Homo sapiens: one gene and its partners. The protein of the gene in region 2 interacts with the protein of the main gene of each other region in a pairwise test. Each region holds a gene or a part of one and is shown on either strand. Other genes may lie near its edges. The genes, in order: LHX2, TCP11L1, IPO4 and PAX6.

Region 1 (7,021 bases), on a different chromosome or scaffold from region 2:
CTCTGTGTTTCTTCCAAATTATAAAAGTCAGTAGGATTCCCAGGCGCTGGTTTGGAGGGAGGAGTAAAGGTTGAGGAGGGGGTAAGTGGTAAGTGTCTCCCTCCACTCCCAGGTAAAGGCTTTCCTAGGGCTTGCGGAGACTCTGGGTGAAGTAGAAGTCTCTGTAGGCATAAGTGTGTTAAGGGAAACTATTTTAGGACAGGACCAGGCCTGGGTCAAAATCTAGTTCTCTCTCCCCCCCATCCTCCAAATAAAGGCCGGGTTGTTCGTCTTGAGGAGGGGATTGCCCCCCGCAGCAGCAGCGGCACCTGGAGGAGGAAAAGGGGGGTACCCAACCGTGTGTTCCCACAGCCCCTCCCTCCATGGTCCCTACAGGCGCTTCTCTGTGCAGCGCTGCGCCCGCTGCCACCTGGGCATCTCGGCCTCGGAGATGGTGATGCGCGCTCGGGACTTGGTTTATCACCTCAACTGCTTCACGTGCACCACGTGTAACAAGATGCTGACCACGGGCGACCACTTCGGCATGAAGGACAGCCTGGTCTACTGCCGCTTGCACTTCGAGGCGCTGCTGCAGGGCGAGTACCCCGCACACTTCAACCATGCCGACGTGGCAGCGGCGGCCGCTGCAGCCGCGGCGGCCAAGAGCGCGGGGCTGGGCGCAGCAGGGGCCAACCCTCTGGGTCTTCCCTACTACAATGGCGTGGGCACTGTGCAGAAGGGGCGGCCGAGGAAACGTAAGAGCCCGGGCCCCGGTGCGGATCTGGCGGCCTACAACGCTGGTGAGTGCGCGGCGCACGAAGCGCCCCCATAGGGTTGGGGGAAAGTGTGCGGCCTCGACGGCCGGGAGCTGGATTGAATCTCTGTGTGCTGGGCAAATAGCGAGCCTTAAGCACCGGACGGCCTCGCAGAAGGGACATTAGCCCCCTGGGCTTCCAGACTGTGCGTCCTCGGCTGGAGCGGGAGGAGAGGGTGCAGTGGTCCCTTGCTGCTCCGGGTGCAGGGCCTTGTCTCTGATAAATTGTTTTTTTGGAGATGGCTTTTTGGTTTGGGCCTTTGCCCCACTTTGCTAGGCAGGAAGTGGCAGGGATGGAGAAAGCAAGGCGGCGCTGACGCCAAACAGGTTTTGGGTTGGCGCGGCTGAGGGCCGGGAACTGGGGCAGCGAAGGAACGAGGCAGGGCGGCGAGGGTCCCAAGAGAAAGGGCTGGCTGTGGCCCGGGGCGCCGAGCTCGGCCTGGAGTGCGGCCTGACCTCGTGAAATGTCCCAAGGGCGGCAGGCTTGGGGAACTCGGGCTTGGGGAACTCAGGAAAGCAAAGGCTGCGGTTCCTTTTGCTCGGCCCGATCCTCCTTTAAAGACAGGTCTCAGTTTTCCCGGACTTTTTCCTCCGAGTTTCCTGGCGCCTGCTGGGGTGAGGGCCGTGACCCTCGGAAGCGAGCCCCCCGGGCGGGGACGAGACCGGAGCAGGCCTGGCCTCGCGCCGGGGTGGGGTGGGGTGGGGTGAGGTGGGGGGCTTGGTTCGGATTTCCGGCATCTTTGAACCCCAGGCCATTCCCGGAGAAGCTCTGCCCCCTCCCGCGCCCCTCCCTGCTCAGGACAGCTGCAGAGGTTCTGAGTTCCGGCAAATGAGCCGTCAACATCTGCCCGAAGTCTGCAAGGCCCGGAAAGGTTTATGACTCTCCGGGCTTCCGAACTAGAGTTTATGTGCAATTATTTTCTTTCTTTCGTTTGCAACAGAATTAGATTTGGAGATTTTGTGTTCTTCTTCCTTTTCCCTTTAGTCTAATGCACAAGCAGAAAAAAGCAAAAACAAAAACAAACCCAAGACTGTGCAGAGGGTGCTACGGCGGGAAGAAGTCAGTTATTTTCATCTTAAAGAATCTGAGTTGAATAGAGAGGGAAATGAGGGGCGGGTGTTCGCTCCAACGAAATCGCTTGGAGGATCATGGGGCGTGTGTCCCTGTGTGCGGAACTGGGAGGAAAACGCAGCCCCCAGTTTGGTAAATGGTGAAGCAGCGGTAGGCCGGTCGGTGGCGCGGATTTAAGATTTGCTGAAGGCACTACCACAGATGTAGCTCTCTGGAACTTCCATCCCTCCTCTCCTACCACCCCCCAAAAAAAGACAAAACCGAGTTCAGACCGGCTCCCCCAACACCAAGCCGCTTCTATTTATCAAGTGGGTCAACTTCCACTCGGAAGCACCTCGCGGGGCTCGGCTCCAGGGCACCTGGTGGCTGGGGAGCTGTATTGTTTTCCTGGGCACGGAGGTTCGGCGCCGGTTTTAGGATTGTGCAAAAAGAGAGTAGAAGGTACAGAGATTTATTTCTGCTTTTTGCTGTTCAGCCGCCGTTTGCCCCAGCGAGGTGGGCTGGAGGCTGAATTTCAAGCCTTGTTTAACCTCTACAAGAGACACCCTCCATTCAGCCATCTCACTTTCTCTCTGGCCTCCCTCTCTCTTTTTTTCCTTTCCGTTCTCTCCGTCCTTTCTCTCTATCTCTGTCTCTGTGTGTGTCGTGTTTGTTCCCGTGCCCTCCTCTCCGACCTTGGCCGGGGCTCCTAGTCCTGAGAGAAACGGCGTTCGGTGCGCCGGCGGTGGCTATGCGGCTGGCTCTTTCGGGGCTCCCGGGACTAGGTTGGGGAAAGAGGGCATCTCCCCGGCCTCTCGGGGCCCAGCCCAGTCTTCCTAGATCTGGCGTCCGCCCTTCCCTCCCCTCCCGCACTGGCAGGAGAGAAATGGCCGCAGTGTGGGCCGCGGGGCAGCTAGGACTGGAAAGCGGGGACCCTGGAGGGTGCGATCGCGGACGGGGTGTGCGGGCGCGGGTCGTGTGCGTGTGCGTGCAGGGTTCCGACCACGGGGACACGAGCTTGTTTGTGGCAGTGTCCCACATCCTGTGGCCCAGCCACGACGACCCCTTGCAAAGCCTCTTGCTCTGGGGACAGTCCCTCCGAGGCGCGGCGGCACCTTACTGAAGGGCGGCGAGCTGGGGGCCGAGTGGGGAGGGGGCGCCGTCGGGGCGCCGGGCGCTGGGCTTACAGCAGAGCCGCGGGCCGCGGGGTCGGAAAGTCCTTCCGGGGCGGGGCCGCAGCGGCCTCTTCCCGCAGCCCCTCGGGCCCGGGCCCCGGTGGAACGGAAACCTCCCCCTACCCCGGGAGGGGCTGCCAGCGGGCTGGGGGTGCGAAAACGGCGGCAGGAGCGGGCGAGGGGCCCGGGCCGCGCACTTTGCGCCTGGGTTTGCGCGCCGCGGCCGCGGGAGTCCCGCGCGGACCGGCCGGACGCCCGGCCTCCCCCAGCCCCAGCTTTTTGTGTGTGTGTGCCTGGCGGCGTAATTACTGATTTGATTCCAATCCATTATTTAGACAATTGAACCTACAATCTCGTCTTTAGTAAAATGAGGCGAAGTCAGATTTGATTACAGGTTCAGTCCCAGCGACAAGAGCTCGAAACCCGATGGGTTAATAACAGATCACGAGTAAATTATTCATGATTTTACGAGCTCTTTAGCTCCATTGAATCGGCCTAATTGAGAGGAAAAAAAAAAAAAAGGAGAGAGAAAGCCCGGGTCCTCCCCCTCCCCTCGGCCCCTCGCTCCTCCCCGGATCCGATCCTGGGGAATCTCGACCCGCCCCCGGGCACTGGGGGCGGGAGTGAGGGGGTTCGGGGCGCCGGCCAAACCTGGGCCCCACGGCTGCCTCCCCCGCCGCCGCCCCCTGCCCTTGCCTCTGGCCGGCCTCGGCCTCGCTACTTAGGGCCGGCTCCTTTCCCTTTTTCTCCACTCCCCTTCTTTCCCCTTTTCTCTACTCCCCCGCCAATAACGGCTTCGGAAAAGGCCTCCCCCGCAGGGACCGGGTCTCCCGGAGCCCCGGGATTCAGCTCGGCCACCGGACCCTCGCCACAAGCTGCGCCTGTTTCCGGGACTCGCTTTCCCCTCCGCTCTCCCTATTTCTTGCTGTCTTTGTAGCTGTCTCTCTGTGGTTCTCCTGGCTCCTTCGCTTTCTTTTCCTCTGTCTGTCCTCTCTTTTTCCTGGCTCTGTCCATCTTCCGTCCCTACCCCCTCTCTCTTTCTCTCCCTCCATTCTGCCTTTCTGTGTTTGTCTTTTTCTCTCCTTTCTCTGCCCTTTCTGTCCCCCTCCCCCGCACTACTACCCCACCTAGGCGGCACTCAGGGCAGGTCCCTTGGGCCCATGGGGGCGCCGGGGTCCCCACGGAGCTCATTAACAGCAGCCAGGCCCAGGCGGGGGCTCGGTGGAGGGATGGGCCCAAAGATACCCCGTAGGGAGGCTGCCCCACCCCCAGTGGAGCTGGGGACTGGGGGAAAGAAAAGGGTTGCTCACCTCAGCGGGTTCCAAGCAGTTCTGGTGGATCAGGTTCAGAGGCATCCTCTGATCCCCTTTAAATTGCCGGACCCGCGCTCTTCACTCTGGGCGTGCTCTCTGTGGGAATGCAGCCCCGGGGGTGAGGGGACCTGAGTGCCGGTGGAAAGAGGCCCCTAGGAGGTGTAGCCCCTAGCTAACAGCTCCAAAGGCAGGGGCAAGACTTGTATCTTGCAAATTCTCTCTGCAAGGGGCTCTTCCCCATCTGGGCAGGGGAAGGGGGAGGTCACCAGCAGAGTAAAAGTCCTTTGGAGGTAGTGTGGCCAGGCAAAATGCAGCATCCCCAGTTAAATTGGAATTTTGGGTACGTAACAAATACATTTTTAGTGTAAGTGTCCCCGGCAATATTTGCATTTTGGAAAAATAACGAATAAATTTGAAATTTGTAGTATAAGTGTCCCGTGTAATATTTGAATTTTAGATAAATGACAATTTTTTAGCATAGCTGTGTCACCTGTAGTATTTGAATTTCAGGTAAACAACAAATACATTTTTAGTATAGGTATGTCCCATGCAATATTTAGGACATGCTTATACTAAAAAATTACTTATTATTTTTCTGAAATTTATATTTAACTGGGCAACCTGTATTTTCATTTGCTAAATCTAGAGCTCTGTTACGGGTATGTGATGAGGGCACAAGATACCTTCTCAGTTCTCACTTTAGGCGGACCGAATGTACACCCCTTATGAGGCTTACCCCAAGGCAAGACCTTAAGTGTGGCATGGCTCGGGAGGTGCCATGAGGAGGCGACCTTGGGAGGGGTCCTGCAGGTCCCCATCAGCTTCCAGGTGGCTGAGCAATTTTCTGAGGCCCAGGTTTTCACCCATATTCCCCACCCCCAATGCCAGCCAGGCATTGGCAGCGTGGCCCCCATGAGGCTCCTTGTGGTTAGGGACAGGCTCCCTCCTCCCTTCGTGGTGTAGTGGAAGAAAACAAGGAGTACTCCAGTGCTAAATCTAGGCTCAACAGATCAAGATCAATCTAGCTGGTTACCGGTGGTGTGGCAGTGTGCAAGTGGCTTCATTTCCCTTAGCGTTAGTTTCCACATCTCTAAAATGGGAATAGTCATAGCCACCTCTCTGAGAGGTAATGATGTACAGTGACATTTGTAAAGCCAAACACACACCATAGGTGTCTACTACATGTTTATTTCTGCCTCGGACTTCCTTCCCCGTCCACTCTGCCGCTCTCTGTGGACTGCCGCAGATCTCTGAACTTCCCCGAGCCTAATTTGCTCCACTTGTTCACGGAGAAACAATCATCTTACAGGGTAGCGATGAGGATTAAACTGCAAAATGCAGTTTCCAACCTTTGGCCCAGTGCCCAAGGCCCAGGGGTCCCTCAGTACTTTTGGGTGTGGCAAAATGAACATGAATCTCTGTTTCAGCAGTTTCTAGGTGCCGGTCCCAGACACGGTAGGGGGAGACGGCAGAAAGCACTCCTCCTTAGAGTGCCTTGGAAAACAGGAGGAGGGCAGGCCCAGAGACCCTGTCCTGCTGTGTCCAAAGTCAAGTGACTTCCCTTGCTGAGCCTCAGTTTCAACATCTGTAAAAACGGGAAAAATAATACCTGGTGCTCCTAGGATTGTTTTAAGTACCTAAAGAAAATGTGCCTGGAAAGCCCTTTAACACATCACCTGGAGTTCAATCGGCCATCAACAAGTCGTAGCTGTTGTTGCTGCTGCTGCTGCTGCTGCTACTATTGTTCTTATTGTAACATAATGGCTCAGAATGATTTTTGGATTCTCCCAGAGCCGGGATTCAGTGCTGCAGTTCTTAGCAGTGTGATCCTGGGTGGATCGCTGTCTCTGAGCCTCAGTGTTTCCATCTATAAAATGGGGATGATGTCCCCCTTTCATTGTGGCGCAGACATGCAGCAGGGTTAAGGATTGAAATGTTTGGCAGTGGGTGGGGCGAGTGTGGATTTGGCATGGGGGGCGGGTCAGGAAGTTCACCCACCGGCTCTGTGTCTCCTCCCTAGCGCTAAGCTGCAACGAAAACGACGCAGAGCACCTGGACCGTGACCAGCCATACCCGAGCAGCCAGAAGACCAAGCGCATGCGCACGTCCTTCAAGCACCACCAGCTTCGGACCATGAAGTCTTACTTTGCCATTAACCACAACCCCGACGCCAAGGACTTGAAGCAGCTCGCGCAAAAGACGGGCCTCACCAAGCGGGTCCTCCAGGTCAGCCAGGGCCAGGGGTGAGGGCATCTGCGACCACCAGGGACTGGGGTGGAACCCTGCACCCCTCGCCGTGGGCCTTGGAAGGACCTTCCACCCTGTGTCTGCTTCTCTGTGTGTTTAATCTTTCTCATTCTCTTTCTTCACCTCTCCAGCCTGTCCCCATCTGTATTTCAGTCTTTTTTTTCTTACTTTGTCTTTTCTCTTTTTCAGTTTTTGCCTCTCTGTTTTTCTGTTTGCGTATCGCTCCATCCTCATTGTCTCCACACTCGGTCTCTTTTCTTTCTTCTAAACAATTCTTAGTTTCTGTTTATTATTCAAGTGACACTCATTTTACACACATTCACATCATAAAAGGTTCAAACATTTCAGATAAATCTAGAGGCCGCCCCACCCCATCCCAGGACGTACACCCAAGGTGACTATCATTAGCTCCTGCTTCTTGCTTCTTACCCACTCTAGTTTC
Region 2 (7,021 bases):
ATTATTATTTTATTTTTTTGAGACAGAGTCTCGCTCTGTTGTCCAGGCTGGAGTGTAGTGGCACTATCTCGGCTCACTGCAACCTCTGGCCAGGCTGATCTCGAACTCCTCACCTCAGGTGAACTGCCTGCCTCGGCCTCCAAAAGTGCTGGGATTACAGGCGTAAGTCACAACGCCCAGCCTAAATTGTTATCTTAGACTACCTAATTATAAACATCTTAGGAAACTTACTAGTAACAGGGAACTAAAATTAACAGCTTTGAACTTTCCAATATTCTTATTATATGGCACTGTCATATGCTGTTTCTTGGATTAATGTTGGCTATCCAGTTAGTTGAGAGCGATTCTTTCCAATGAGATGCTTATTGCAAAAAATCACTAACTTTTAAAATAAAGTATGCCCTCAGTTGAAGTATGCCTGGGAAATCTTTCCTTGGTCCAAATCACTGGGATTGATCTTACCCTAAACCCATAGTATTTGTGCTTTTGAAAGTGATTTGAAACTCAAATATTTTGGTTTTTGCCCCCCTCCTTTTTTTTTTCACTGCCCCAGCTTGAAGAAGAGAGTAAAGGAGATTGTACATAAAGCGTTTTGGGATTGCTTGAGTGTGCAGCTAAGTGAAGATCCCCCAGCATATGACCATGCTATCAAACTTGTAGGAGAAATCAAAGAGGTGAGGCAAAGAGTGAATTGTGATGCTTTTCTGGTGTGTTAGGAGTGTTTATTCAACTTCTTGTGTCACCACCAGAAGACTTTAAAGAAATTGAAGGATCAAGAAGTTAAAGTACTTGCCAGAAGGTGGATCAAGAGTGTTTTTGGCTTAATGCCCTTTTTTAAAAAAAAGTTTTAAGCAAACCATGATAACCTGAAGGCATTTAAGACAACAAAGTTATTTCACAAAATCTAGTTTATTTATAAATTTTAATAGGTGTGGACACATTCCATTTATAATGGCCAAAAAGTGACTCAGCCTTTGGGACAGAGAAAGCTTTAGGTGGAGGGACTGTTTTTGCAGCGCCTTTAGCAGTAGCATCAAAGAAGAAATGTATGCATGGAAATTGTCATCAGCTATGGTTGGCTCACAGGCTCACATTAATAAACATGCTTTTCTTTTTTCACCATTAACAGTTTTTTCTTCTATCCATTTAATTGCTACCTAGGGCTTAAATGGAAGCTTAAGTAGCTATTGTAAATGATTTGTAAACATGTTTTTCTGTAGGTTTGTTGAATAAGAAGTAAAATATGTGCAATATTACGTAGCAATTGAGAAGCCCTTATTTGGATAGTTATAAATTACATATAATTAGAAATGATGTCTAAAGAATTTTGATTAAACGTAGCTGTGTTCTCTTGTAGACTCTCTTATCTTTCTTGCTGCCTGGTCATACTAGACTGAGAAACCAGATAACAGAAGTCTTGGATCTGGATCTGATAAAGCAGGAAGCAGAGAATGGGGCGCTAGACATTTCCAAGCTGGCAGAATTCATTATTGGCATGATGGGGACACTGTGTGCACCTGCTCGAGATGAGGAAGTTAAGAAACTAAAGGACATTAAGGAAATAGTGCCCCTTTTCAGGTATGGAAATATGTTAATCATACTCCGTGCAACTACAATTCAGAGGCATTTTCTTTTTTTTCTTTTCTTTTTTTTTTGAGACAGAGTCTCACTCTGTTGCAAAGGCTGGAGTGCAATGGCGTGATCTTGGTTCACTGCAACCTCCACCTCCTGGATTCAAGCAATTGTCGTGCCTCAGCCTCCTGAGTAGCTGGGATTATAGGCACGCACCACCGTGCCCAGCTAATTTTTGTATTTTTAGTAAAGATGGTGTTTCACTACGTTGGCCAGGCTGGTCTCGAACTCCTGACCTCACGTGATTGGCTGCCTTGGCCTCCCAAAGTGCTGGGATTACAGGCGTGAGCCACTGTGCCCAGACCAGAACTATTTTCAATTTAAACTTCCTGAAGTCTTGGTACTCATGGATTTAAAAAAAAAAAAAAAATTTGTAAAATGCAGAAAAGTAAAAAGAAGACATTTACTCATAATTTTACCTCTCAGAGGCATAATCACTCTTATCATTTTGATACATAGATATATTTTTTATACATTAATTTCCTTCAACATTTTCTTTTGAAAAATTCCAAACCTACAGAAAAGTTACAAAAACAGTACAATCAACACTCACAAGCCCTTCATGTGGATCCATCAGTTTTTATCATGTTGTCACATTTGCTATGCTGCCCAGGCTGGTCTGGAACTCCTGGGCTCAAGCAGTCCTCCCGCCTTGGCCTCCCAAAGTGTTGGGATTACAGGTGTGAGCCACGCGTCTGGTCCTCTTTTCCTTTAATGCTATGTTTACTTTACAAATGCTTGCTTCTAAATCCTTTTTTCTTTCAGAGAAATTTTTTCTGTGTTGGACCTAATGAAAGTGGACATGGCCAACTTTGCTATCAGTAGCATCAGGCCTCATCTCATGCAGCAGTCAGTTGAATACGAAAGGAAGAAGTTTCAAGAGATTTTGGAGAGGCAACCAAGTATGTTGAATATTTTGTGGTACTTTTTTTGTTGTCTGTGGTTTTTCATTTTAGCTGCCATAGCTTGTTGCATAATATTATTTTCAGAACAAAACTAAAATTTAGTAGGAGAATAGTCTAATTTGAAGAAGGAAAAGCACAAAATGTTGGGACTACATCTAGAGTTGTTAAGCATTGAAAAGAAAACTTAATTCACAAGCAAAAGGAATGTGAGTAGGCTATGAGAATAGAAATTAAAAACAATGAATTCCTAAATTATAAATGGTTTTTTGATGAAAACACCAGTTTGAAGTAAAATACATTCTTGGTCTTGATTTTTGAAAACATGACAGACATCCTGTGAATGTTAATTCACTTTTCTTCTCCCTGTGTGGCACAGCAGGAAATTTAACTTTGCTTTTGTTCTGGATGCATAAATCTTCTTGTTTCATACCCAGGAAGAGTCTCATTTTTATGAACCTCTCCGATGACTGCAGAAAACAGACGACTCTCAGAATCTAAAACTACGTTGTATTTCTAGGGTGCTTTTTATGGTCTCTGCATTGCTAACTGACATTCTGGGTAAATTTCAGTCTTCAGATTCAATGTATGATGAATTCCATTTGGCCTCTAACTTTGCTGACGAGGAGATGAAAACAGCAGTCTCTGGGTTGGTTGGGTTGCCTGACCAGATTAGTTAAGTGAATGCCCCATGCAGTTGATTCATCCAGCCCCAGGCAGAGGAGTCTGAGGTAGTGCTGGGGCCGGGGCAGGTTGAGAAAGGACAGGGTAGAGGTAGAAGTAGAAGAAGTTTGGTAATGTTTACTAAGTGCCAGGCTTGTGCCAAGGGCTGGATGTACATGATCATATGTAATCCTCACACAGTAAGCTGATGAGCCAGGCACCTTTTTTTTAATCCCATTTTACAGATGTTGGAAACAGGTTTTGGGAGATTTTTGACCAGAATGGATTGACCACAAGCTCACACTCTCACCAGTGTTGTGAGAGTACTGGGAAGAGTTTTTTCTTGTTGTTGTTGTTGTTTTCTTTGAGATAGAGTCTCCTCACTCTGTCACCCAGGCTGGAGTGCAGTGGCACGATCTCTGCTCACTGCAACCTCCGCTAGGCAGAGTTTTGTAGCCTGAAGAGCCGTAATATTAAGGCCTGGACCTGGAAGCTGGGGCATAGTGGAGGACTCACTGGTAGGGTGGAAGCAGCTACAGTGCCTGCATCTAGCACTTAACTCACAACATGAAAGCCTGGGTTTCCCAAAGCTGGGGGGTTACGGAGAATATTATCAGCAGAAGAGAGGGTGAAGCCAGATGGCCCAGGAGTCATGACCGAGAGCTCAGGGTAAACTGGAGCTGCATCCCCCTGCCCCAGTGAAGAGCAAACCACAGCTGTGACCTTGGCCGCCCACTTGGTTTTAAGGAAGCAGGAAGCCTCCACTAACAGAGCTGCAACACCTGCTGGGACCTGACAGGTGCAGTTTTTATCAGATGATGTGTGAGATCCTCCAGCTCTCTCTCTGTATCCCTCAGAGTGCCCCCTGCATTACCAAGCTTAGAAAAGCAGGGGTGCAGGAGGGCTGCTGAAAGCCAGATGGGGCTTCCCTGACAGAGTTCACTTTCCCCCAGGTTGAAAGGAAGCCAGATTGATACAAGGTTAAGATCTAAACAAGGAAAAGCCTCATCATCAGTGTAGAGGATACTTTACACAGGGAAACTCTAGCTGGTGTCTCATCCTATCTGTCTCTAGAGCTGGAGTTGCCAGGGCTTTGGGGTCCATCTCATGCAGTGGTCAGGATGGGAGAGAAGGGAAGGAAGGTTTGTTAAATACCAGGTGGGTGGCAAGGCCTGGCTAGGTGTCATGTATTTGTTACTATTATTATTATTATTTTAGACAGGGTCTAGCTCTGTCCCCCAGGCTGGAGTACAGTGGTGTGATCACCACTCACTGCAACTTTAACCTCCAGGACTCAAGTGATTCTCCTGCCTCAGCCTCCCAGCTAGCTGGGGCTACAGGCATGTGCCACCATGCCCAGCTAATTTTTGTATCTTTTGTAGAGACAGAGCCTTGCCACATTGCCCAGGCTGGTCTCGAACTCCTGGGCTCAAGCAGTCTTCCCACCTCAGCCTCCCAAAGTGCTGGGATTACAGGCATGAGCCACCATGCCTGGCTTATTCATTATCTTGTTTAATCCTCACAACAGCCTGTGAGGTGGGTGTTGTAAATTTGCCTATATCAGGCATCTGAAACTCAGACACATTATGACTTGCCTGAGATCCCTCAGTTAGTCATTGGCACTACTATGATTTGATCCAAGTTTTATTTGATTCCAAAGTTCATACTTTATACTTTATCACTCCACCAGGACATCGATTGTCCCTTAAGTAATTCCGAGAAGCATCCCTTCTTGGTGTCAAGGTAATGTGTGCAGCTTTGTTTTTCACAGATTCCCTGGACTTTGTCACCCAGTGGCTGGAAGAAGCCTCAGAGGACCTTATGACTCAGAAGTATAAACACGCCCTGCCAGTGGGGGGAATGGCTGCTGGCTCTGGGGACATGCCCAGGCTGAGCCCTGTTGCTGTCCAGAATTACGCTTACCTGAAGCTTCTGAAGTGGGACCACCTCCAGAGGCCGTTCCCCGAAGTAGGTCTCCTGAGCCATCTCACTACTCATATTTGTTTTTGTGCTGCTGAACTTTTTAAAAAGAATAGCTTTGGCCAGGCACGGTGGCTCACTCCTGTAATCCCAGCACTTTGGGAGGCAGAGGCAGGCAGATTGCTTGAGGTCAGGAGTTCAAGACTTGCCTGGGCAACATGGCAAAACACCCTCTGTACTAAAAATACAAAAAATTAGCTGGGCGTGGTAGCAGGGGCCTGTAGCCCCAGCTACTTGGGAGGCTGAGGCAGAGAATTGCTTGAACCTGGGAGGCGGAGCTTGCAGTGAGCCAAGATTGCACCACTGCACTCCAGCCTGGGCGACAGAGCGAGACTCTGTCTCAAAAAATAAAAATAAATAAGTAAATAAATAAAATAAAAAATAAAAAGAATAGCTTTATTCTGATATAATTCATGTACCAGAAGATTCTCCCTTTTAAAGTGTACAACTCAGTGTTTTCTAGTATAGTCACAGAGTTACGCATCCATTGCCACTGTTTAATTGAGAACATTTTCATCACCTCCAATAGAAACGCTGCATCCATCAGCGGTCACTGCCCTCCCCCCCTCCCTCCAACGCCTGAAGCCACAGATCTGCTTTCTGTCTCTATGGATTTGCCTATCCTGGACATTTTATTTAAATGAAATCATACACTACCAGCCTTTTGTGCCTGGCTTCTTTCACCAATGTTTTTTCACGTTGTAGCACATATAGCAGTAGTTTAGTCCTCTTTTCCACTGTGTTTTTTTTGTTGTTGTGGTAAAATACACATAACATAAAATTTACCATTTTAACCATTTCTAGTTGTCCAGTTCAGTGGCATTAAGTGCATCCACATTGTTGTGCAACCATTGCCACCAGCCACCTCCAAAACATTTTCATTTTTCCTTCTGTGAAACTGTCTTCCCACCAAACACACCAAACAGTAATTCCCATTGCCCCCGCCCTCTGGCCCCTGGCAGCCACCATTCTACTTTGAGTCTCTGTGAATTGGACTAATCCGGGTACTTAATATGAGTGGAATTATACAATCTTTGTCCTTTTGGGTCTGGCTTATTTTACTTAGCATAATGTCTTCAAGGTTCATTTATGTTGTAGTATGTGTCAGTGTTCCCTTTCTGGGTTTTTTAAAATTTTTTTAAATTTTAGAGACAGGGTCTCATTGAATTGCTCAGGCTAGGTGGTACGACAGCTCACTGTAACTTTGAACTTCAGGGCCCAAGTGATCCTCCTGCCTCAGCCTCCTGGGTAGCTAGGACTACAAGAGTGTACCACCACCCCCAGCTAATTTTTAAGTGTGTTTTTTGTGGAGACAGGGGTCTCGCTATGTTACTCAGGCTGATCTTAAACTCCTGGCCTCAAGTGGTCCTCCCTCCTTGGCCTCCCAGTGTTGGGATTACAGGCATGAGCTACCATGCCCAGCCCTCCTTTCTTTTTTAGGCTGAATAATATATTTTACTGTATGGATGTACCACATTTTGTTTATTCATTCATCAGTTGACAAACATTTGGGTTGTTATTATAAATTATGCTTCTGTGAATATTCCAGTACAAGTTTTTGCATGGACATATGTTTTTACCTCTCTTGGTTACGTACCTAGGATTAGAATTGCTGGGTTACATGGTGACTCTTAAGTTTAACATTTTGAGGAACTGCCAAACTGATTTCCAAAGCAGCTGCATCATTTTACCATCCCACCAGCAATGTATGAGGCTCCAGTCTGTGCTGCTGAATTTTTCTCCTGTTTTTACTCATCTTGATGGAAACCACAACAGAGGTGTGGTTGTTCACAGCTTTATCTAAAGAAACTTCTTCCCCTTCCATGCTGAACAATATTTTTTTC
Region 3 (7,485 bases), on a different chromosome or scaffold from region 2:
TGGTCCTCCCTGTGGGCAACCCTCACCCTGGGACAGGGGAATACATACCTCTGCCTGATGTGGTCGCCAGCTCCGTCAGACAGCACGGCCAGCACCAGGAGTCCAGCTTTGCGCTGGTATGGGCTCTCGCTCCGCAAAGCCTCTTCCAACATGGGCATCTAGGGAAGCATGTGGCACGCTTCTGAAACCCCAGCAAGAGCCTGCCCATTCCTGTGGTAATAGGCCTTCACACCTCCCAGGGTCTAAACGTCGTTGGCCTCAGGGGGACTAGGCACACTTGGAGGTAGGGACACCAGAAGGACAGAGCCACACTTACCAGCTGGGGACAGAGCTTCTCGGGGGGCAGGTGTAGTGCCAGCATGTCCACAACCTGAGATGGGATGGGGAGACTTACTTTGCTTGACTCCATCTCTGCCTCCCCAACGTCCCACAGCCACCTAACACCTTCCCCCTCTGTCCTGCCCCACATCTCACTTGTACAGCGAAATGCTTGGGAGTCTCCCCCATCAGCTCAATCTCCAACTCTTCCTCTTCTGAATCCTGGTCCTCGGGATCCAACTGGCCTGGTGGGGGCTCAGCAGCCACAATGGGGAAAAGGGTGTGCAGCAAGGGTGGCAGGAGACGATTCTTCAGTAAGGCCTTGACAGAGAAGGTGGAACAGTGTCCCTAAGAATCTGCTCCCAGGATGGGCTCACATTAAAAATTCCAGTCTTCCAGGCCATAAGGGGTCTGACAGAAAATTCCCAACCTCCCAGGCAGGAGCTGGGGTGAGGCCAGGCCAAGGCTTGAACCCCCACAGTACTTTAGATACCCTGAGATGGACCGAAAGCCCCAGGAGTGAGACTAAGGGTGGAGATGGGGGTGGGGTGATGTGTGTCAATGGGCACTCACTTACCTTGCTCTTGACTTTGACCAAGAAAGTGAGGCAGCAGAGAATACGTATGCGTATCGCATTGCCCAGGGCCACATTTCTAGCTACCTGTCCACAGAATAATAAAAATCAGCGACAGGGAAGGAGAGTCCCAGCAGAGCATGTAGCAGGGGCCATGTCCACTCCAGGCTCACCTCCAGGCAGAATGTGAGGACTTCAGAGAGGTAGGGGGTGATGACCGGCACCTCTGACTCCAACAGTTCATCCAAAGCCTCAAGGGCCTCACAGGCCTTTGCCTGACAGACAAACAAGGCACAAGGTTACCATGCTCTTCTTCAGTGGGCCAAACTGGACACTTCTGCACTCTCCTTCCAACAGAGCTCCTGCCCACCTGTCCTCACCTCATCTATGGGGATCAGAGTCTGCATGGCCATGATCAGCTTGGGCACCAACATCCGAGCGAGAGGCTGAGGGACACATCACAGAGAGCATGATGCAGCCCAATCTCACACCCCAGCAGCTGGCAGCTTCCTCACAGCCTGAATTGCGAGGAGGAGCCCAGGCATAACAGCCAGGCCCACCTACAGCATCCCCTCTCAATTGTCAGGAAGGGCCACAGGCAGGTAAAGAATCCAAAGCAGCTTTGTAACTTTTACGGGTGAGGACATGAAGGCATGAGGAAAGGGAGTCAAAGATAACGAGGGCCCACATCTCACCACATCTTCAGTGCTGAGGTAGGGAGCCATGGTGGTCAGAGTGCGCAGGGAGTAGAAGAGCAGCCCAGGAGAGCCCACCTCACCAAGAGTCTCATTCAGAAGCCGAAGAAGCTCCCGGTGGTGGGGTTGGAAGGCCTCGGGCCGGGAGGTCACCACCACACTTAGCAGCAAAAGCCCCATCTGTCCAAGAATAGAGGATGGGAGAGCAAGCTTACAAGGTCTATCCAGCCTCTCAGGCCCTCCCTCCTGCCAACCATGTGATGGTACCTCTCTCTCTGGGCTGTGGGGGCTGTGGGTACTGTGCTGAAGCAGCTGCAAAAGCTGTGGCCAGGCCTCCAAGCCTTCCTTTCGAAAAATGGTGGCTGAGAGCTGGGCCAGGCTGAGGCTCACACAGTGCCTGCAAACAGGAGAGATCTCCTCCAATCACCCTTCAATACCTTCCTCTGCACACAGTGGCCAGGCTCAATGGGGCAGCCAGGACAGAAACTTTCAGGAGGTGTGGGCACAGGGTCTTTGCCAAGTTGGGACACATGAGACAGCAGCTCAGAGGGAGCCCAACAGCACTGTGGGCATGTAATCTGGTAAGTTCAGTCTAACTTAGCCTGAATTTCAGTCTTATTCTTCTGACTTGGGTTTGGCAGATCATCATCACCCTTCCTCAAGAACTTTAGTCTTCAAAACAGCCTTAAAATCCTCACTCCACCTTGCGTCTAGAACTGAAGTCCCTGCCCCACAAGTCCCAGCCTGGAGCCGAAAAGGAAGGCAGAAACCTAGACAAAGTCGTCAAGATCCCGAGAGAAGTGGGTAGGTACTTACTCTGTTTCTCTCTGCAGGGCCGTCAGGATCAGGGACTTGAGGCTGGAACACAGGTGGCAGGTGTTTGGTACCCAGCCTGCCCAAGAAAAGTCTCCGCCTGGCCCCGCCCCACCCCAGGCCCAGCCCACCTCTCCCGTTGCTCCGCCGCCAGCCGTCGCCAGCGGGTGTTCAGTCGTCTGCGGGTCAGCACGGCCGCAAACTGGCGGATCTAGGACGAGGAAGCAAGCACGTGGGGGTCCGGGCAGGAAGGTGCTGAGCGGACCGCAGTGGGCGAATACTGGGGCTTGACCGGTGGCGTACAGTGGGAAGCTCGGAGGGGAGAGTCAGGGGTCTCACCTGGGGGTCGGCCGCCGAGGCTAGCAGGTCGCAGAGAGCCGGCAAAGCGGCGGGGGCCCGAAGAACGATCTGGAGCTGTTCCGTGGCCTGGGGGGAAGCTAGGGGTGAGAGTTGGGCCTTTCCCGCAACCTCCCGCTCGCCCTGGCCCGGTTACGCCTGCTCCGTACCCGACGGATGCGCTCGGTGTCCGGTAGCAGCAGCTCCCGTAGGAGCTGCTCTAGCCCGGCTGACTCCATGGCAGCAACTGAGCCGCCGCTACTGGGCCGAAAAGGGGAGGGGGAGGGACAGCACGTGGAGGTTCTGACACCCACTTCCGGAGGAAAGGGCGTTGCTGCACGCCCCGCGGGTTGCCAAGGTGATTCAATTCGCTTCCCACAAAGAGGTCCGGCTCCTCCACTTCCGTTAGGCTGAGCACCGGCTGAATCGCGGAAACCCGACTCTGGCAATGTAGGTTCCCCACGCCGGGAGTTCCCAAGCTGGGTTGGAGAACTCGAGCTTCGGGCATTCAGTGGCCAGCTCGGCTTTATAAAGGACCGTGCCCTTAACAGCAGGGCTCGAGTTCCTATATCCAGACCAAAACCTCCAACTGCATGAGCCTTTTTCTTAATAAATTTTATTTTGGTAATTGTAAAAAGAAAAATCAGGACCAAAACTAAAGGCAACTTAAAAAGTTCAAATATATAATCCTTATGTGATAGAGATTTATAATTTCCAGGCCCTCTCTGGGGAAGGAATGCCCAAAGGGCAAAAGGGAAGGCAACAATGCCATCACACAATTCAGTCAATCAGAAGAGAAGCTGGTAGGAGAGTTCAACAGGGCATGAAGAAAGGGAGAGAACAGCAATAGTTCTGCCATACAGAACTCAGTCCATCTTGAGGTTAACATAGATATACCGGATGAACTTTAGGGAAGAAAAAAAGGAGATGGTGCCCAGCATGAGGAAGAAGACATAACCAGTGAGTAAGGAGTAGCCGAAGAACTCTACTGTCTGTACTGCCCCAGACATGTTGGAGCGCCGGGCATAATAGAAAACTGAGTAGAGGAAGATGAAGAGGCCGGTGGAGCCAACACTCAGCACAGATCGCCACCACCAGCGGTAATCCTCCCCAGACAACTGGAAGTAGGTGAGTGCAATGGAGATGCAAGCCCCCACACTCAGCAGGATGGCGAAGACAAAGAAGAGGATGCCGTACAAAGTGTACTGCTCCCGACCCCATACTGTGGCAAAGATGTAGTACAGCTCCACAGAGATGGCACTGTGAAGAAAAGAGATGATACACAGCATTAAAGGGCTGTGCACCATCAGCACAGTGGCTGGGCTGAAATCCAGCCCCCACCCTCTCCCATGTTGCTGGGTCATTGTGAAAAGTGAGTTCACTCCACTCTCTGCCCCAGATCTCCTGGCTTCATGGGGATTTTTTGCCTATGATTAGCCGCTCTCACTTCAAGAATATCTTCCCTAATAGATTGAGGGCAGGGATCTTGTCCATTTTATTCCACTTTATTCTTTGCCTGGCACAAAGAGGTATTCAACAAAGTAAATGGGTCATCAAATGGGCTTTAAACCCCACATGATGTCCATAGGCATTAAAGTCAGAAACCAGGAAGGTGAAGGGGGAAATGTCTCCGGAGAGCTTTATAAGTGAGACACTCTCATATCATTCAAGCTCAGTCCTGCTTGGGGATAGGAGGAACCATTTAATGATCTCTGAATGGTACCACTGAACCAGGGATCAACGGGTTGGGTTAGGGTACTGGATGAGTAGGGACAGGAAAAATTGAGGTCAGGAACCTGACAGTAATAGCCATGGAATAAAGGGAGGATACCTGAAAGGCAGGAAGCCTCCAACAGTCATGTGGATGACAGTAGACTTGTACCAGGGCTGGGGTGGAATCTCCCGGGCGATGTTCTTGGTGCGACAGGGTGCATCAAAGGGGCTGGCGTTGTTCTTCCCAAAGATGCCTCCAATGACAGTGAGGGGAAAGCCCACCAGCAGCCAAACCGTCAGAAGCAGCAGGATGGTTGTGGCTGGCAGAGCCTGTGTCGAACCATTGGCCCAATGCACTGAGTTCACCACACTCCACGTCAGGAAGAAAGGCACTGCAGGGATGGGCCCCCGGAGGGAGGGTCAACACTAGGAGCTACATCTCTAAGGGCACCCACTTACATCCAGGACCAAAAGGGGAGGGGGCTGAAGCAGCCTGCCACTCTAACGGCAGACTCATGCTCCTGGATGTCCCTGCAGAGTCGACTGCCTTCACCTCCACCCTTTCAGGTCCCATTATTCTTTGTTCTGTGTTTTTTTTTTTTTTTTTTTTTTTTTTTTGAGACAGAGTCTCGCTCTGTCGCCCAGGCTGGAGTGCAGTGGCGCGATCTCTGCTCACTGCAAGCTCCGCCTCCCAGGTTCATGCCATTCTCCTGCCTCAGCCTCCCGAGTGAGTAGCTAGGACTACAGGCGCCCGCCACCACGCCCGGCTAATTTTTTGTATTTTTAGTAGAGATGGGGTTTCACTGTGTTAGCCAGGATGGTCTCGATCTCCTGACCTGGTGATCTGCCTGCCTCAGCCTCCCAAAGTGCTGGGATTACAGGCATGAGCCACCACACCCGGACTCTTTGCTCTTTATCTTACCAACACCATCCCCCAACCCGGTGTCATTAAGGATCCAGGTAGCTACTACATAATCTGAGAGTAGCACAAATCCATCTGCCTCCAGGGGCCTGTCTTGCCTTGGAGTTGGTAATTCCTAGCATGAGACATTCCTTTGGATTAAGGCCCTGTTTTCAGAAAGCCTTGGTTCAAATATAAATGTGATGGGATAAAAATCAGACACACAGAATTGGGAACAAGAAGGGTTCAGAACAGAGACTACTACTGCCTTTGAAAGGGCAATCTGGTTTGAAAGCCTAGAGTGGGCCCACCTTCAAAATAAAAATTCAAGGGTGTTATTTTAGTGTAATGGGTGAGAATACAAGTCAGACTGCTGAAACCTAGTTCACTACTTTTTAGGAGTGTAATCTCAGACAAGTTACTTAAGCAGCCTTTAGTTCAGTTTCCTCATCTGTGGAATGGAAATATTACCTACTTCACACAGTTATTGCTGAGTGCTTTCCACACTGCCTAGGACATTTTGAGGGCTTAGTAATTTTAAACTATTCAAAAGAAATGCATTCTTGTTTTTTTTTGGTTTTCTTCTTTCTTTTACAATATTCCTTCCCTTCAAGCCTCATCCTGACTCTATCCCAAGTTCTATGATGTGTTCTTTTTTTTTTTTTGAGACAGTCTCACTCTGTCAGCCCAGCTAGAGTGCAGTGGTGCAATCATGGCTCACTGTAGCCTCAACCTCCCTGGCTCCCCAGGCTCAAGCAATCCTCCTGGGTCAGCCTCCCAAGTAGCTGGGATTACAGATGTGAACCACCATGCCCGGCTAATTTTTTGTTATAGAGAGAGGGTCTCACTATGTTGTCTAGGCTTGTCTCAAACTTTTGGGCTCAAGTGATCCTCCGGCCTCGGTCTCCCAAAGTGCTAGGATTACAGGTGTGAGCCACTGTGACCAGCCACAATGTGTTCTTCATTCCTAAGTCCAGAAAGGCCCACCAGGGAAAGGAAAGTCCTCACCAGAGAAGAGACTGGTGGTGAGAATGATGTTCCACACCCAACGCTCGCCTCCAATCTGCCGGTAGAAGTGGCTGGACACGTAGCCAGAGATGCAGCAGGTCAGGGCATACAACAAGATGGCTGCTGAGTTAATGGCCCCATGACGGTGCACATTGAACATGCCCAGCAGTGCCATGACAATAATGCCTGCAGGACGGTAGCGGAAAGCCCAAGTTAGGCCTCACCTGTGTCTCTTCTAGCAATTTCAGAGGAATCAGCCCCCCTTCTCCCAGACCCAGGGCCTCCAGCAAAACAATCTCCCCCAGTTTTGCTATCCAGAAAATCTACAATAGAATACGTGCATTCTTGCTAGAGCCACCCTATCCCTTAGGTCTGCCCCTCTGGATAGAAGAGAAGATCCACAGACCTTTTCTGAACAAACTCCCTACCTAGTTCTATCCCATGAGATAAATCCCCAATTCATTTTTATCACCTCACCAGTGCCAAGGGCCAGGAACTGGGCACCCACGCCAAGCACAGCACAGAGCAGACCACGGTATGGGGGGAAGCGGAAGACATCTGTATGGATAATTTTCCAGCCATTGTCACCCTGGTCAAAGTCATCACCAGAACCTGCAGAGGTGGTCTCCTCATCTAAGTTGTACCGAGCCAGGTCATTCCGAAGCACACGCATTAGAATGACAGCCACAAAACCCACCAGTAAAAACACAAGCACCATGGAGTTGATGATGGACAACCAATGGATTTCCAGTGTTCGAGGAAAGAAACCACCATCGTCACCACGGCGCCTGTCACTCCGACGCTCCACTGAAGTCTCAGACCAGCGCACGCTATAAGTGTGGGTAAGGCCTAGGAACTCGTCAGGTCGTAACCCATCCAAGCTGTGGGGCTTGACGTCCCGCACTGAAACATTGGCAAATATAATTCGGTCTCCATGGAATTCTAGGTGGAAGTCCAAATGGGTCCAGAGTCCTATCTTGTGGCTGTGTGGCAGGAAACCACTCTCCTCCATGTAGCCCACAAAGCCCCGGATTGGCAAGTCATCTACCACAAATTCAAAGTAGTACAGTTCTTCAATGGCCTGGCGCAGCTGCTCCACCTATAAAGAGCAAGTCAGGAGTTGGTCA
Region 4 (6,980 bases), 1.2 Mb from region 2:
GGGTGATGAAATGGAAAGCAAACTTTTCTAGGAACCCTATTTGCAAAAATCGGAGAGTGCCGCTGATTTCAGTTGTCCTACATGTCAGGAGTTTTAAACCTAACTCCTATCTGGACAACAGCATGGAGGGACTGGGAGGCAAAGCCTTGGGAGTCTGACCCGCTGGGCTGCTAGGAATCCCTTTGCTGGGAGACTCCACTGGACAATGTTATTTTAAAGGTATTTTGGGGGTGGGCAGGGAGAAGACAGAGAGAGAAAGAGAGAGAGAGAGAGAGAGAGAGAGAGAGAGAGAGAGACAGGCTGGCCTCCCAGAGCGAACGGAAGAGGACTGAGGACTGAACCCAGGGAGCCCCTAGCACTGGCCATTTGGCAGGAGGCGAGGAAGGGCGAGGGCACCGCGGCTTCCCCCCAAGCCGAGCAGTGGCCACAGCCTGAAGGTGCCACGGGGCGGCTCTGGGATCTTCTTGGCTTTTCTAGGCTCTGGGCTCGGCGAGGCTGCCGGGTTAGCGGGAACCGGCAGGTTGCTGGAGAAAGGAGAGGGACAAAGGCCTGGAAGTGGGGGAGGCACCAGGGACTGGGCGGCCGGGATGGGAGCCTTTGCCTTTAGGGCTCACTGGACCCGTTTGCCAGCTCCGCGGACAAGGGATCCCACCTTCCCAGGGTCTGCAAAAAGAGAGACGTTTGGGGCACTACAAAGTGACGCAGGTGTCTGCCAAGACTTTCCTTCTCCAAAAAATGCCAGTCTTCACCCTTTCCAGCGCGCCGGCGCTGCGCCTCTGCTTGACCGGGGAAAGAGAGAGTTTGGAGGTGTCAGAACTGTCAGAACTCCGGATGGGAGGCTCTTGGTTCTGAAGCTGGGAGCTGGAGGCACTTCCCCCCAGAAGTGGGCACTTCTTTGCCTCCCCGAAGGCCTGATGGGGTGGGCACAGGGGAATGCCAGGGATCGGTGCGGGTGAGATGCTTGCCTCACCTCATGTTGACGCATCAATACTGGCTAGAAGCTCTGGGCAGGCTCTGGCGAGCCACGGTCCCCCAGCGGGACTCCCTCCACGCAGACAGCCCCGCTACCGGGTGGGACGACCCCGGCGGCCCCCGCGGGAACGCACCCGCCGGCCTGAGAGGTCCTCCCTCTGGCCACAGGGGGCGGAGGGTAGGGGGGAACAGGGGCCTGTGGGGAGGCGGGGAAAGGAGACAGAACCTAAAGCGCAATCCCCGCCGCCCCCCCGCGTCTTGGAGGGCAGCAAGTGGGCCTCGGGCGTGTTGGTAGCCGCAATTAAAATGGCGACCTGCGAGTTGTCTCGGTTTTGTACACACCTCTGGCAACCGCGCCCGCACCTCAGTCTCGGCCCCCACACCCCTAGGCCGCTTCGCCCCCAGAGCCGGTACTTGGCAGAGGGAGTGAGGCTCCCCACGAGGTAGAACAGCACCCCCACCTTCCTTGAGACCAGTCCAGAGAGAACGAGGAAATCTCACTCTCACCCCTCTCTCCTTAAACTTTGAAAACTCGGCCTCATTCTGGGGTTGAACTCCCCTCCCCAAATATTGACACATGGGAAGCAGCCAAGTCCTTTTTGTTTTTTGTTTGTGCGGAGGAGTTTCCAGGAGTCTTTCCCGGAGCCCCCTTCCCCACCCAATGACGTCAGTGGCATTCACTCCTCGCTCCTTGCCTTTTCTGATTTTTTGTTAAAACTTTTCTCCGCAGCGAGATGGGGGTTGGAGGGGTGGGAGAAGGAGCTGATTCAAAGAGCCAGTGCCCTGGGGGGAAATAGCAACAAGATTACGGCTGCTTCTTTCCGAGGCAAAGCTTAAGAAGGTGCTAATCCACTCGGTCGCTAATTGAGAGGTTGTAAAAATGATACTCGCCTCCAGTTCGGACAGAATCACTTCCCCCCCCCCCGCCCCCCCGCAAGTCCCTCGCTCATGCACAGCGGACTTGAGTCTTGAGTCCAAGCTTCTTTAATGCTCGCTTGGAAAGTAAAAGGAGAGAGAAAGAGAAAGCCGACTTTCGCTGGTCTGGGACTCAGGGCCGCGGCCCCACTTGCCGGCATCCTCCGAAAGTCGCGCTCCTGCGAAATGAAACCTCGCCCAGGAGGCCGCGGACCTGGACACCCGGCGCCACCTCCTTCACCTCTGACCCAGGTTTCCTCCCGGCGCTGCGAGCTCCCGGGGAAGGGTTAGAGCCGGCAGCCCTCCCCAGCCCGGGGAGGGGAGAGGGTTATGCGACCCCACCTCTGGCTAGGGCCGGGGAGGCCTTTGCTTCCCGGGAGCCCTGCCCGGGCTCCTTGGTCGCAGGGCTGCTGGGTCCCAGGCAGGAACGAGAGGGTGAGGCCCACATGTGGCCCGGCGGCCCAGGGCGGCTTGCAGCGTCCTCACTGTCCCGGCTGCCAGGGGCTGCGGCGACGCGGCCAGTCAGCAGCGAGTTCAGGTCGCGCAGATTTTATTGATGAGCTCTGACTTTCAGCACTTTCCCTAAGTCAAGAAGAGTCTAGCGTACCCTTCGGCTGCTTCATTTCAGCCTCCCTGCCTCAGCTCTTCAGCCCTATTCCCCCTCGCCCTGTCCTGGGGTGTGTACAGCAGCCCAGGCCTTCCTTCTCCTTCCCGGCTCCGTGGCCCGAAGCCGCCGAGAGAGCTCGGGACAGCGCAGGACCAGGCAGCCGCTCGCTCTCCTGTCACCTTAACTGCAGGCTCCGAGGGGCGCCTTTGGAGTGTACTGAGGTGTGTCCTAATCGTGCGGCATTCAACAAATGGACTTCTGGTGTGTGGTCAGAAGAGAAAAGCCATTTACTTACTTTCCTCCCCGGTTTTCTGGCAACAGCTGAAGGGGAGCTGCCTCCGTGGACTGAGCAGACCCAGGAGAGGGAGTCGTGGTGCGGAGACACACGCACCACACACAGATGACCGGTGGCACACACGACACACGCTGACATACCGACATCGCCAGTGGGACACACACACACACACACACACACACACACACACACACAGAGAGAGAGAGAGAATCCCTCCCAGCATTGGTCATCCGCCCCCCCACCCAGGCTTCCACTCCCCCTCCCCTCTTATCTCCCCTGGCTTCCCCTCCTCTCGGGCGCTGCGAAAAGCAGCCGCACTTAGTCAACAAATGGCACGTGGGAGAAGTTGGTGAGTGTTTGGTGAGGACTCTTCAGGGCTTTTCACAAGAACCCTCTGTACACAAAGTAAGTGGCGTGTTTACTCGGGCCTCTCCAGCCAGAGCTGTGCCTCTGCTCCGCTGCGCACCGCGGCTTCCGAAAGGAGAAAGGAGAGAAGAAAGGGCGGGGAGAGCGGGGTGGAGGATTTGGACAGGCCCTGGAGGCTTGGGCTGGGGAGGCCTCTGGCCTCGTTTAGTTCTCGGCCCGGCAACCTCCTCTCGGCCTAGGCTTCGCCGCGGCCTCCGCAGCTGGAATGGAGCTGCCAGGACCCAGTGACGCTCCCGCCCCTTTCCTCTTCTTCCAAGGGGCCAGGTGGGCTGGGGTGCGGCCGCCGCTGTGCTCTGTGTCTTGGGGCCCCGGCTGGGATGGGGTGGGGGCGGGCGGGGGCGGGGCGGCAGGCCACGCTGTCCTGGAGTTGGCAAGAAAGGACAGCACAGAAACTTGCACCCTCCGAGGACTGGGAGTCCCGAGTCCAGCTTAGGGGGAGTGGGGGCGCGACCCCCAACCCAGAAACCTTCACTTGACCGCTCAAGTTCGCGGCAGCAGGGCGGGCCGCGCCGAATCTCGGCGTGCGCGGAGCGGGGAGATGCAGGCGAGCGCCAGAGCCCGGGCTCGGGGGCCCTGCGCCGGGGAGAGGAGCCGGGACCCACCGGCGGAGCCGAAAACAAGTGTATTCATATTCAAACAAACGGACCAATTGCACCAGGCGGGGAGAGGGAGCATCCAATCGGCTGGCGCGAGGCCCCGGCGCTGCTTTGCATAAAGCAATATTTTGTGTGAGAGCGAGCGGTGCATTTGCATGTTGCGGAGTGATTAGTGGGTTTGAAAAGGGAACCGTGGCTCGGCCTCATTTCCCGCTCTGGTTCAGGCGCAGGAGGAAGTGTTTTGCTGGAGGATGATGACAGAGGTCAGGCTTCGCTAATGGGCCAGTGAGGAGCGGTGGAGGCGAGGCCGGGCGCCGGCACACACACATTAACACACTTGAGCCATCACCAATCAGCATAGGTGTGCTGGCTGCAGCCACTTCCCTCACCCACACTCTTTATCTCTCACTCTCCAGCCGCTGACAGCCCATTTTATTGTCAATCTCTGTCTCCTTCCCAGGAATCTGAGAATTGCTCTCACACACCAACCCAGCAACATCCGTGGAGAAAACTCTCACCAGCAACTCCTTTAAAACACCGTCATTTCAAACCATTGTGGTCTTCAAGCAACAACAGCAGCACAAAAAACCCCAACCAAACAAAACTCTTGACAGAAGCTGTGACAACCAGAAAGGATGCCTCATAAAGGTGAGTCCGCTTCTTTCTTCTCGCTTTATTTTTATTGCAATATTCAGACAGGTCTCCCCCTTCCTCCCCCCTTCCTTCCTCCCCTCTCGCCGGTCCCCTCCCCCACTGCTACGCCGGGAGAGTTGGGCCGGAGAAGTTTCCACGCAGGAGCCCAAACTTTCTACTTCCAGCGAAAGCCCGCGTCGGAGGGCGACTGCCGGCGAGCGGGAGCGGCGCAGGGCTCGGGGCGGGCGGCCAGCTCAGCCCCAGCGCCAGCGCCAGCGCCAGCGCGGGCTGAGCTCGCGGGAAGAAGGGAGACTCCAGGCGCGACAGCAGCCGCGGCTCCTAGCCCCAGCGTCGCCCAATGCTCCCGACCCGCGGGAAAAGACGAAGAGGCTCTGTGGTGCCCAAGGCCCTGGAACGGCCGCAGAGAGCAACCGCTGCCGGCTGCTTTGTCCAGCCCGAGGCCCAGCGAACGCGCAGAGAGCGGGCGCTCCGAGGACTCGCCGAGGGAGCGCCGAGGGAACCTGCTCGCCGCGTCTCCGCCCGCCCGCCGGCCCTCGGGCTTTGTGCCGCACTGGGCTCCGGCGCAGAAGAGTCAGCCGGCACTCGAGCGCCGAGGGGGGCACCGCGCCCGCCACCAGCCCGAGTGGAGTCAGTCGGCAAGGCAGCCGCACGCTGGAGGTAGAGGGAAGAGCGAGCTAGCGCGAGCCGGGAAGGAAGCCACCAGGCCAAGGCGGTGGAACGCGCGCTCCGAGGGAGCTCAGAGCCGAGCGGGAGGACTGTCAGCTTCCACCCAGCCCCCGGGCTCTTGCCCCCAACTCCACTGGAGCGCTGAGCTCGGAACTTGAAAACTCTCTGCTCCCCAGGCTTCCCCCGACTCTCATCTCCCTTGCCTTGCGGAGGCTGGGGCTCTTCCCTGTTCTCCGGCCCCCTGCGCTTGGTGGGTATTTTTCCTTGTTTTCCTCTGATCCAGTCTCACCAGGTGTTGGGATTTCAGCAAGTTTTGAGGTGCAGAGTTGGTTTGCTTTTTTGTTTGTTTTACTCCGAATCCCCTTATGTTTTTCTTGGTAAGGCCTTGAAAATAAATCTGTATGAAAGCATTGGCCTTCCCCCTCGTCTGATCACTTCTTCTCCCGGCTAATTAGTCGGAGTAATTTGAGAGCTTTCGATTCTAAGATCCCAGGAGGAAAAGTGTCTTTTCAAAGTTCATAAAGTTGTTGCCTCTTTCCTTGTGCAGATTTTCTCAGTCTCCCTGCGCCATAATAGCCCTGAATTTTAGCAAGTGTAATTGGGGGAAATGGAGTTGAATTTCAAGTGGAAATGCTTTCTTTTTCGAGTGCTAAAACCTGGCTCTTCATTCATGAGCGATTTCTAGAAAGTTTAAAAACAAAGTGAACGTGGTTTCTTTCTTTCTTCCTTTTTATTTTTCTTATACTCTCCCAAGCTCCCTAAGCCATTCTGGACGTTTAACTCGAACTTGGGAAGGTTTTAGAAGGGGCTGGGAGCAGAAAATGAAATGAAAGGCAAAGAGCTTGAGCCTGGCGAGTTTACTGAAGAGAAATAATAGTTGTTGCGGTTGACATTACATTTTTTATAGCCAGTGACCTTTGCAAAAGCGTGAAGGCAGTTTGATTAGTTGTTATCTTATTTGGCCCTAGAGAGTAAAACTTTGTCATCATAATTGCTAATTACTCTTTTGGCTGGGGGCGGGAGGACCGAGAGCTCTCCCCTTTACCTCAGTTAAAGAGTTTGGGGATGGAATTTGAGAATTAAGTAATTAAAAAAAGAACAGCATTTGAAAACTGAGGCTTGTGTTGGGGACAGAGAGGTGGGGGCAGTGACCACTCTCTTGTGGTCCAAGGCTGGGGCGACTCCAAAATGTCTGGAGACTCCTTCGTTCAGGATGTGGTTCTATGGCCCCAGCGAGGCCGTACAGAGCCTCGGGCTGAGCTGGGGGGCTGAGGCTGCAGTTGGGGGTCTGACCTCTCCGGTGCACAGGACTGCTTCCGGGTGTCGATGTGCCCCACTTCCCGGGTTGCTTCTGCACTTAGTGTTCACGTTTACTTAAGTAATTAGATAGCTTCTTAGCGAGAGGGAAGTGGGAATGGAGCAGAACTGGAATTTGAAATACTACCACCTTCCCAGCTGCTTCGAAAACTAATCAACGAGGCCTCTTTGTGCTCAGCTACTGAATTTAAAAAAAAATGGTATCAAGAAGTTACAAGCCAGGATGGGAGCATTCTGTTGTGATTGTGCACAGCGTGGGTTACAAAGTGGAGTTCTGGAAGTTTTACCCCTCCTAGGGGAATTCCATTCCCCATCTCCCCACCTACTACTCCTTTGCAGCTTCAGGGTCCTGCATTTGTTGGGGTGGGGTATTTTGCATTAGAGTTGGAGATTTTGCCTATCCAGGGCATGGCTATGGGTGCCGGGACTGAGAGACAGGAAGGAAGCATTGGAGAGCCAACCTAGATAAGGGTAACTAGTAACCCTCTGCTGTGGCCAGTATTTACCCAATGCTGAGAAAAAGTCCTCATTT

The links.
Region 1: the proteins of TCP11L1 (region 2) and LHX2 interact in binary tests that used the Homo sapiens proteins (3 or more experiments, as listed by UniProt).
Region 3: the proteins of TCP11L1 (region 2) and IPO4 interact in binary tests that used the Homo sapiens proteins (3 or more experiments, as listed by UniProt).
Region 4: the proteins of TCP11L1 (region 2) and PAX6 interact in binary tests that used the Homo sapiens proteins (3 or more experiments, as listed by UniProt).

Annotation. Positions count from the first base shown.
Region 1 is NC_000009.12:124,014,747-124,021,767, forward strand, and holds part of LHX2 (LIM/homeobox protein Lhx2), read left to right. Parts: intron 1-375; coding exon 376-779; intron 780-6,352; coding exon 6,353-6,558; intron 6,559-7,021. UniProt on the Homo sapiens protein: Acts as a transcriptional activator. Stimulates the promoter of the alpha-glycoprotein gene. Transcriptional regulatory protein involved in the control of cell differentiation in developing lymphoid and neural cell types.
Region 2 is NC_000011.10:33,056,562-33,063,582, forward strand, and holds part of TCP11L1 (T-complex protein 11-like protein 1), read left to right. Parts: intron 1-553; coding exon 554-674; intron 675-1,357; coding exon 1,358-1,578; intron 1,579-2,397; coding exon 2,398-2,534; intron 2,535-4,953; coding exon of another isoform or gene 4,954-4,968; coding exon 4,969-5,165; intron 5,166-7,021.
Region 3 is NC_000014.9:24,185,813-24,193,297, forward strand, and holds the start of IPO4 (importin-4), read right to left. Parts: upstream 3,005-7,485; 5' UTR 2,976-3,004; coding exon 2,907-2,975; intron 2,827-2,906; coding exon 2,740-2,826; intron 2,612-2,739; coding exon 2,532-2,611; intron 2,446-2,531; coding exon 2,404-2,445; intron 1,985-2,403; coding exon 1,855-1,984; intron 1,768-1,854; coding exon 1,588-1,767; intron 1,339-1,587; coding exon 1,273-1,338; intron 1,168-1,272; coding exon 1,066-1,167; intron 980-1,065; coding exon 896-979; intron 640-895; coding exon 475-639; intron 371-474; coding exon 317-370; intron 159-316; coding exon 49-158; intron 1-48. Other genes in the region: TM9SF1 (transmembrane 9 superfamily member 1 isoform a precursor), read right to left, coding at 3,603-3,996, 4,568-4,841, 6,359-6,544, 6,836-7,457. UniProt on the Homo sapiens protein: Nuclear transport receptor that mediates nuclear import of proteins, such as histones, RPS3A, TNP2 and VDR. Serves as receptor for nuclear localization signals (NLS) in cargo substrates.
Region 4 is NC_000011.10:31,808,307-31,815,286, reverse strand, and holds the start of PAX6 (paired box protein Pax-6), read left to right. Parts: upstream 1-3,964; 5' UTR 3,965-4,172; exon of another isoform or gene 4,173-4,271; 5' UTR 4,272-4,446; coding exon of another isoform or gene 4,447-4,459; intron 4,460-5,327; exon of another isoform or gene 5,328-5,381; intron 5,382-6,980. UniProt on the Homo sapiens protein: Transcription factor with important functions in the development of the eye, nose, central nervous system and pancreas. Required for the differentiation of pancreatic islet alpha cells.